Regions from separate parts of the Homo sapiens genome. Here region 1 is linked to region 2. The links come from fine-mapping of genetic effects on plasma protein levels. Region 2 holds a variant in brackets. A gene starts in the other region. All regions are shown on their forward strands.

Region 1 (4,383 bases), not on the chromosome of region 2:
GACCACAGGTCTCCCTGGGAAGCGGGGAGGAGTTGAGTTGGCTGAAGGCTAAACAGGCTCCGGGAAGCCCTCCCTGGCCTCCAGACCCACCACTACCTCTGCGCAACAGGAAATCATTTGAGAAATAAAAAGGGGACCCCCGCCCAACATACACACTCAGGCCTAAGAGGTTTGAGTTTCTTGAAAGAACCTCAGGCAGCAGGCCTTGCAGCCACTGGGGCTCCGGACCCTGCCAACACCTAATTCTGGGAGGAAGACTCCTTAGGGCGACGAGGGCATGCGGTGGGGTAGGCGGTCGGGAAAGCCCCAAAGGGGAAACCTGGTGCGGCCGGCTGCGAGCGGAGGTCCCGGTCCCGGCCTGTCCCCTTCCCCAGCGCAGACAATAGCCCTGCAGAACCCCAAACCCCGTTCCACATCAGCAGGGCAGGAGTGTGAGAAGGGCCGGGAGCGAAGGGGCCCAGCTTCCCGAGGCCCCTTTGTTGCCCAAGAGGGAGGCAGGAAGTGGGTGGGATGGGCGTGGAAATGACCAGGGCCTCATCCTGTTCCTCGCACTGCCTCCTCCGAAACACCAGCCCTCTGGCGGAGGGGCGGTGGGGGGACCGAGCTCGGGTCGAGTCGGGGACTCCGGCGGCGCGCGCAGGCGACGGGGGGAGGTAGGGGCGGGGACGCGAGGGGGTTCCTCCCGGGCCGCTGGCAACGCGCCGCGCACGGCCGGCACCCGCTGCGCTCCCGCGACTCTGACGAACCTTCCCAACTCGGGGACTGCGCCCCAGGGACCCTGGCCTGGGCGGGCCAGCGGGATTGGCTTCCCCTGCTCCAGCCTTCCCGTGCCAGGGGCGGAGACGCAGAAGCTGGGGACCTGCTCACCCCCAAACAAAGGGTCCCCGCCAAGACCCCGTCCCGGGTCCCCCCGGGTTCTCCCCTCCCCCAGCTCCAGGGATTTGAACGCAAACAAAGCGGCGGCGCGGGGAGCGTGGCGAGCCCGGCCTGCGGACGCCCCCTGTCGGCCCAGAGCCCCGGCGCGGGAGAGCGGGGGCTGCGCCCCAGACCAGCCCCCCAAAACGCCCGCGGCCTCATCTCGGCTCCTTACCCGAGGATCGGGCCGCACCCCGTGGCGTGCTCCGAGGATCCGCCCGGCAGCGGTGCTCCCACCCGCAGCTCCCCCCAGGGCGAGGAAACGGGCAGCCGGGAGGAGGGGTTGGGGGGAGGGGTGCGGGATCCAGGCGGGGCACCCCACACCCTCGCCCACCCCGAGCGGCCAGCCGTGGACCGCGGCCCTCCCTGCAGGGCGAGCGCTCCAGCCGGGGACGGCGCGGCCCGGCTCGGCCCGGGGGCCTGGCTTTCCGGGACAACCCGCCTCCCCAGCGGAATGGGCGGGCGGGCGGGGGGCCGCGGCAGGGAAATCCGATCCCACAACATCGGCCTCCCTCCAAGCCCGCCCCAAACTTTCCATCGGGGGTGGGAGCGCCGAGGGCAGTCCAGGAGCCTGGCGAGGATCCCGGCCGCGGACCGGACCGCGCGAGGAACCCTCGCTGGCGCGCCCCTCCGGCCCCGGGGCTGCGGGGCTGCAGGTGCTGTGCGCCCCACTCCCGAGACCCTGCGAAGCAGCCGCGGGGGTCGCAGGAAGGATCCCCGCGTACAGCCGTCTCCGCCGCCGCGGCTCCCCGCGCCCCAGCCCCTGTCCCTCCCGCGTCCGGCAGCCCCTGCCCAAGCAAAGGGACAAAGCGGCGGCTCCGGGGCCCCGCGGCTCCAGCCTCACGCAAGCCCGGCCTCGCTCACCTATTGCGCGCAGCTCCAGTCCCCGGGCGCCGCCCTCGCGTTCGGCTCTGACCGCCGTCCACCCCTGCCCCCGCGTCGCCGCCTGCCCGCGCTCGCCCGCCAGCCCTCCGCGGCCTCTCTGCCACCGCCCCTCCGTCCCCGCCCGGCTCCGCGCCCCTAGGCTCGGGCTCCCCGCGCCACCACGGCGGGCGCCGGCTCTTTCTCCAGCGCGGCCGCGGCTCTCCGCCCCCTTCCCCTTGACGTCAGGCTGGGGGGGTCGAGCGGAGGCCGGGGGCGGGCCGCGAAGGCTCGCTCAGGAGGGGGCTGCGACCCGCAGCGACCTGTGGACCCGCCCGCTCTCCGCCCGGGGGCTCGGACCTCCGCCTCTCTGGGTGCCCGGACCTCAACCCCTCCGGGTGTCCAGCAGCCCCGGGGCTCGGAGTCGCGGGCTGCGCCACAGCGCCTGGAGGGAGGTGGGGCGGGGGAGGGACTCCGGGTATGGCCACGGGGGAATCACACTCACCCGATCTTTCTGAAGTGTCCCCCGAAGACTCCGGGCGGGCTGGGCTGGGGAGAGGGACTCCCGACCGTGCAGTTGCAGGAACGACCGCGGGCGAGCCACGTCGAGGCGAGTATCCAGGGGAGGCACGCTGGGGGAACCGAGGCGTCTTTTGGGGCGGACCAGAGGGGTCTGCCGTTTGGCCCCCAATTCTGCCTCTTTCTAGGCCCCGAGGACCACTGGTCCCTGCCCTCAAGTCTGGAAAGGGCTTCACCAGCCAGGAAGACCCTTCAATCAACAGAAAGGGCCTGCTCCTGCTTCTCACGCTTTGGGCAAAGCGCCTATCCCCAGAAAATGACTCCTCGTGCCACTGGAAGGCTGATTAACAAGTGGCATGAGCCCTACTGTTCAGATGAAAGGGGCTGTGGGGAGCCACGCTGCAGAACCACCGCCACCTTCAGAACCACCAGCCTCCGCCCACAGCCACTCCTAGAAGCAACTTGTAGCTCTGGCCTCATGGGCGGTGCAGCGTCTTTCCTGCCAGCTGGTCCTCTGAGCTGGGCAGGTGGTTAGAAGAGGTGGTCCTCATGGAGGACACCCCACGGGCACCTGGAGACAGATGCTACCTCCTGGCTAGGGGCAAAAGGCAGAGGTGAAGGGGCTTGACGTCCTGAGGTTTGGAGGTAACTTTAAGCCAGGGTGCAGTCCTGGAGGGGAGGAACACTTCAGGCTGCGTCAGCAGATCTGGATTATAAATCAGTCCGACAGCAGCTTTTGTTCTGGGTTAAAACTTGGCATCTGAAAAGTGGAGACCAGAAAAGTGGTGGAGATAATTGAGAAAAGCAGCCCAGTTTGGTTTCAGTAACAATCGGGTCTTTGCTGGTACACATAATGGCCCCTTCTCCCTTGCTGGCCAAAGCCACGTTTCCCAGCTCTTTTCCACTAGGAAAAAGAAAAAAAGCTGTGGCCTTGGAGATGCTGGAGATAATGACCATGGGGTGGGCAGGGAAGGCCTCCTGCTTCAGCTGACAAGGTGGGAGAAGGTGTGTCACCCTCGTGTTTAGTTTATTCCCCGTATCTATTCAAGCGGAGGGTAAACTGAGATGCAAGTGCCCTCACTTGTGTTCTGTGCTTTAGATTTTTGCAGCTTGTCTTGATGTACATTTTCTTACTTCACCCTTATGACCACCCTTTAAAAAGTAAGTAATTTGGGAGGCTGAGATGGGAGGATCACTTGACCCCAGGAGTTCAAGACCAGCCAGGGCAACATACTGAGACCCTGTCTCTACAAAAGAAATTATTATTATTATTTTTTTTTTGAGACAGAGTCTCACTCTGTCACCCAGGCGGGAGTGCAATAGCGCGATCTCGGCTCACTGCAACCTCCACCTCCTGGGTTCAAGTGATTCTCCTGCTTCAGCCTCCCAAGTAGCTGGAATTACAGGTGCCTGCCACCAGACCTGGCTAATTTTTGTATTTTTAGTAGAGACGGGGTTTCACCATGTTGACCAGGCATGCGCCACCATGCCCAGCTAATTTTTGTATTTTTAGTAGAGATGGGACTTCGCCGTTTTGGTCAGGCTGGGCTCGAACTCCTGACCTCAGGTGGTCCACCTGCTTAGGCCTCCCAAAGTGCTGGGATTAGCCACTACGCCCAGCCCCAAATTAAAAAAAAAAAAAAACTAGCGGGGCGTGGCGGGGAGGGGTGGCTCACGCCTGTAATCCCAGCACTTTGGGAGGCTGAGGCAGGCGGATCACGAGATCAGGAGATCCAGATCATCCTGGCTAACATGGTGAAACCCTGTCTTTACTAAAAATACAGAAAAATTAGCCAGGCGTGGTGGCGGGCGCCTGTAGTCCCAGCTACTCGGGAGGCTGAGACAGGAGAATGGCGTGAACCCAGGAGGCAGAGCTTGTAGTGAGCCAAGATCACTCCACTGCACTCAAGCCTGGGCAACAGAAGGAGACTCTGTCTCAAAAACAAACAAACAAACAAACAAACAAACCAAACTAGCGGGGGCGTGGTGGCATGCATCTGTAAGTCCCAGCTACTCAGGAGGCTGGAGTGGGAGGGTCGCTTGAGCCCAGGAGGTTGAGGCTGCAGTGAGCTGTGATTGTGCCATTGC
Region 2 (4,383 bases):
GAGATGGTATCTCATTGTGGTTTTGATTTGCATTTCTGTGATGACCAGCAATGATGAGCATTTTTTCATGTGTCTGTTGGCTGCATAAATGTCTTCTTTTAAGAAGTGTCTGTTCATATCCTTTGCTCACTTTATGATGGGGTTTTTTTTTTCTTGTAAATTTGTTTAAGTTCTTTGTAGATTCTGGATATTAGCCCTTTGTCAGATGGATAGACTGCAAAAATTTTCTCCCATTCTGTAGGTTGCCTGTTCACTCTGATGGGATCTGATTAAACTAAAGAACTTCTGCACAGCAAAAGGATTAATGCCTTTATAAGAAGAGGAGGACACCAGAATACCTCCTCTCCTTCTCTCACCAGGTTAGGATACAGCAAAAAGGCAGCCATCTGTCAACAAGGAAGAGGGCCCTCATCAAACCCTAAATCTATTGACACTGTAGTCTTGCACTTCCCAAGCAACAGAAAAATGTTTGTTGTTTAAGCTGCCTAGTCTATGATATTTAGTTATACCAGCCTGAACCAAGACAATCCTATAGAAAAATATTTTAAATGCCATTTAAAGTAAGTTATTGAAGAACATAATATCTAGGTATACCAAGCACATGGTTATTTTCTTAAAATCTCAAACAGTTTCTTATCTTAAATATCCTACTTAATAAATATTAATTTTGAAATAGTTAATTGAGAGGGATACAATTTCCTTACCTATAAAACAAATATAACATAATAATCCTAGCTGTTAGGGCTTTTGTGAAAAGTAAACACAGTCTAAAAAATGCAGGCAGTATATAGAGTTAACTTATTGCCATAGGGTCACTGGATCACATCCTTTCACTAAACATTGGTCTGTACTTTTAAAGTAAGTGCTATCTGTTCCACTTATATTATTAATCGAACACATATTTATTGTAATCGGCACATATTTTGGGACACTAGGAGTTCAATAGTGAACTAAAAACATAAAATTCCCTTTCCCTTAGGCTGCTTATGTTTTAGTAGAGGAAATACATTAATCAAATAACTTGATAAGCAAATACAATTTGTAACAGTGATAAATGAGAAACAGAGTATGAATACATGTAACAGGAAATCAGATCTAAATGGGAAGATCAGCAAGCCTTCCTTGATTAATGAAAAGTATAAAGGAAACTGAGATCTGAAGAATAAAACTAGAAGTCAGCTAGAAATAAGAGGGACATCCATGCAGGGAAAAAAGCAGCATGAGAAATGATGTGTAGCAAATGAAAACATGGTGTATATGTAATAAATAAATAGTAGGCCAATATGTTTCATTTGGAAATGAAGGGTAATGGAACATAAAGCTGGAGAAGCTAATTGGGGGGAGCTCGCTGGACTTTGTAGGTTACATTAAGAATGTCTTTATCGGCCGGGCACGGTGGCTCACACCTGTAATCCCAGCACTTTGGGAGGCCAAGGCAGGCGGATCACGAGATCAGGAGATCGAGACCATGCTGGCTAACACAGTGAAACCCCATCTCTACTAAAAAAATACAAAAAAATTAGCTGGGCCTAGTGGCGGGCGCCTGTAGTCCCAGCTACTAGGGAGGCTGAGGCAGGAGAATGGTGTGAACCCGGGAGGTGGAGCTTGCAGTGAGGCCAGATCGCACCATTGCACTCCAGCCTGGGCGACAGAGCCAAACTCGTCACAAAAAAAAAAAAAAAAAAAAAAAAAAAATTTGTCTTTATCTTTTTATTTTATTTTATTAGTGCAGAGCATCTCTCTCAGTCTGCTCTGGATGCTTTAAGAAAATACCATAAACTGTGTGGCTTATAAACAACAAACATTTATTTCTCTCCATTCCGGAGTCTACAAGTTCAAGGTCAAGGCAGATTCAGTGTCTGGTTAGGGCCCACTTCCTCATAGACAGTGCCTTCTGCTAGCATCCTCACATGGTCACTAACTAGTGCTCTGAAGCCTCTTTCATAAAGGCACTAATGCCAGTCATGAGGGCTTTACCTTCATCACCTAATCACCAAGTCACCCAAAGGCTCCACTTCCCAA[C/T]ACTATTGCCTTAAGGGTGAGGATTTCAACATATGAATTTTGGGGGGACACAAATATTCAGTCCATAGCACAGAATGATTGTGTTTTAAGCCAGGAAGTGGCATGAAGAGATTAGTATTTGGCGATGATTATTCTCAATGAAGTGTGGACAACAGATGTTAAGGAAGTAATTTTGGCAATTACATTACTTTGTATAGTTAATCATCGCATCAGTAAAATTTTGTTAGTGACAAGGACTACATTTCAAGTTAATTATGTGTGTTACATATAGGAGGGATTCTGTTGTGACTAAATATTTTACTTATCAGTAAATTTATTTTGCTAAATACTAAAACATATAATTCTAAAACTGGAAATCTGAAAGGGCCTAGCTCATACTGTACCTCCCACCCACTGTCTAAACCCCTTCTCTGACAGTCCCCAACCAAAGGTAACCTACACTCTGTTTGAATTCTTCCACATAACAGGCTGTTCCACTGTTCTATTTTGTTTTCTTACACTAGGATGAAATCTGTGTCTCTGTAACTTCCACCCACAGAGCTACTCTGCATAATAATTTTCCTAAGACAGACATTCAAAAACTGAAGATAAAAGTGGTATAATTTCCTAAATCAATCTTGCTTTCTCCATGCTAAATACAATTAGTTGCTTCTACAATTGTTGATATAATTTTAAGACTCCATCATCTTTGTGCACCAATATTCAGTACATTCTTGACAAAAGGTCATTGCCCAGAGCAGTGCTGAAGACTATCGTCTCTGTTACTACGGATGCTATCTGCTAATTTTAAGATTGTGTTATCTTTTATGGAAATTATGTCACATAAAGGCTCATCTTGAGTTTCCAACATATAGGTTTTCTTCACATGAATTTCCTATTAAACAATGATCCCTTTATCCTATACTCAAAAGAAAAAAATGGGAGCGGGTGAGAGAAGGTACATAAATGCAAGAATTAACCTATTCTATTATATTGGTTGTGAATTCTGTATTCTTATATTTTTCCCTCTCATCTTTGCCTCAGCTAGAAATTTTGATTTTCATTTATTTGTTTATTTTTAGAGACAGTCTCATTCTGTCACTCAGGCTGGAGTCCAATGGTGTAATCACAGCTCACTGCAGCCTGGAGCTCCTGGGCTTAGCTGATTCTCCCACCTCAGCCTCTAGAGTAGCTGGGACTACAGGTGCATGCTACCACACCTGTCTAATTACTTTTATTTTTGTCTATTTTGCCTAGGCTGATCTTAAACTCCTGGCCTCAAGTGATCCTCCAGCCTCAGCCTCCCAAAGTGCTAGTATTACAGGAGTGAGCCACCACACAAGGCCTGAAAGCTTTACATTTATGTTTTTCACATCTTCATCCAAATTTTTGGCAAAGCTATTAAAATGTACCAAATCCTATGAAATAGCTGACTCTAGAGAGGACTTACAAACTACCTGTTTTGGCAAATTAACTTTCAAATGAACATTTTGTTCTCAACTGGAAATTTTCTCAACAAATTAAGGGAACATAAGATGATATTCTACATGTAAATATGTACACTAAACTATTGTTCAAAGGGAGTTGAAAAAGCCAGAGAGGTTAGTTTGAATAATTGGTCATTTTTCTGGGTGCTTCTTGGTGAGTCAACAATTAGGAAAACAAAATTAAAAATAACGAAAACTTAAAGTGATAAAATATTTTAAAATTCTGATTTGGCATTGGTGTTTGTCTAAAAATATGTAAATTTGTGCTCATTGTGATCAATTTTATTGACTCTTCTATCCCAAGGAAAATTTTAATCAAACCAAATGATGCCCATACAAAGCCTAATTCTTTAGTGCTTTAGAATAAAAAATCTGTAGTTCTTTCATGGCGCCTTACAAACCATCCAGTTCAACCTTCTTTTTGCCCTGTTTACACTGCTAGTTCATAAAGCTGCAAGAATGGGAACCCAAGTCTCCTCTTCATGGTCTGTGTCACTTCCCTTGCAATGCATCACTCCCCAGAACAGAGTTGCAAATTCGGACACCTTGCCTAATGCTCTTTCCGTATTTTTACACTTTCTTACTCTTTCAGTTGCTTATACTGTTACCCAATCAACAAATTTTCCTCTCATTTTATGTAAATCTTGACAAAGGCTTCTCATATTGGACTGTACATAGTTATTACCTGATGGGCTATTTTAAAATAAACCACTTTCTACTACCAAACTTCTGAAGTTGTTATTCCTTAGGTCTCGGGTGGAGTTCTGAGCCAGGATCAGCACTCATTGATTTAGAGGACAATTTGAAGTCACATAAACCTGAATATGAAGCCCCTTAACTAGCTGTGTGGTCTTAGGTAACTATGTGACTTTATCTCAGTCTCATTTTCCTCATC

Direction of the effects. Positions count from the first base shown, and alleles are read on the strand shown. Strength reflects both the effect of a copy and how common the allele is.
With allele T in place of C in region 2, the plasma level of the protein whose gene starts at base 1,984 in region 1 is lower (weak association).

What was found. A credible set is the group of variants that fine-mapping cannot tell apart. PIP is the chance, under the fine-mapping model, that this variant and not a neighbour inherited with it causes the effect. Protein levels are from antibody-based Olink assays in UK Biobank. Linkage for the fine-mapping came from a reference panel and not from the study's own genotypes, which makes the PIPs less certain.
Region 1: SEMA4C starts here. The variant in region 2 is the best candidate, but not a certain one, in a credible set for the plasma level of the SEMA4C protein (UK Biobank, PIP 0.51).

The regions. Positions count from the first base shown.
Region 1 is chr2:96,868,097-96,872,479 of GRCh38, forward strand. SEMA4C (semaphorin 4C) reads right to left here and starts at 1,984. Exons shown (of 15, transcript NM_017789.5): 1 at 1,780-1,984. LOC124908044 (collagen alpha-1(I) chain-like) reads left to right here and starts at 278. Exons shown (of 3, transcript XM_047446878.1): 1 at 278-322; 2 at 489-653; 3 at 932-3,027. The coding sequence starts at 278. The coding sequence ends at 1,939. RefSeq lists silencers at 507-1,126, 1,177-1,336, 1,657-1,756, 1,777-1,846, 1,877-1,976 and 1 more.
Region 2 is chr11:89,465,683-89,470,065 of GRCh38, forward strand. All of the region lies in intron 2 of NOX4 (NADPH oxidase 4), which reads right to left. Among named protein-coding and RNA genes, the nearest start is that of NOX4, 24 kb to the right of the region's middle. The variant C/T (reference allele first, on the strand shown) is at 2,023.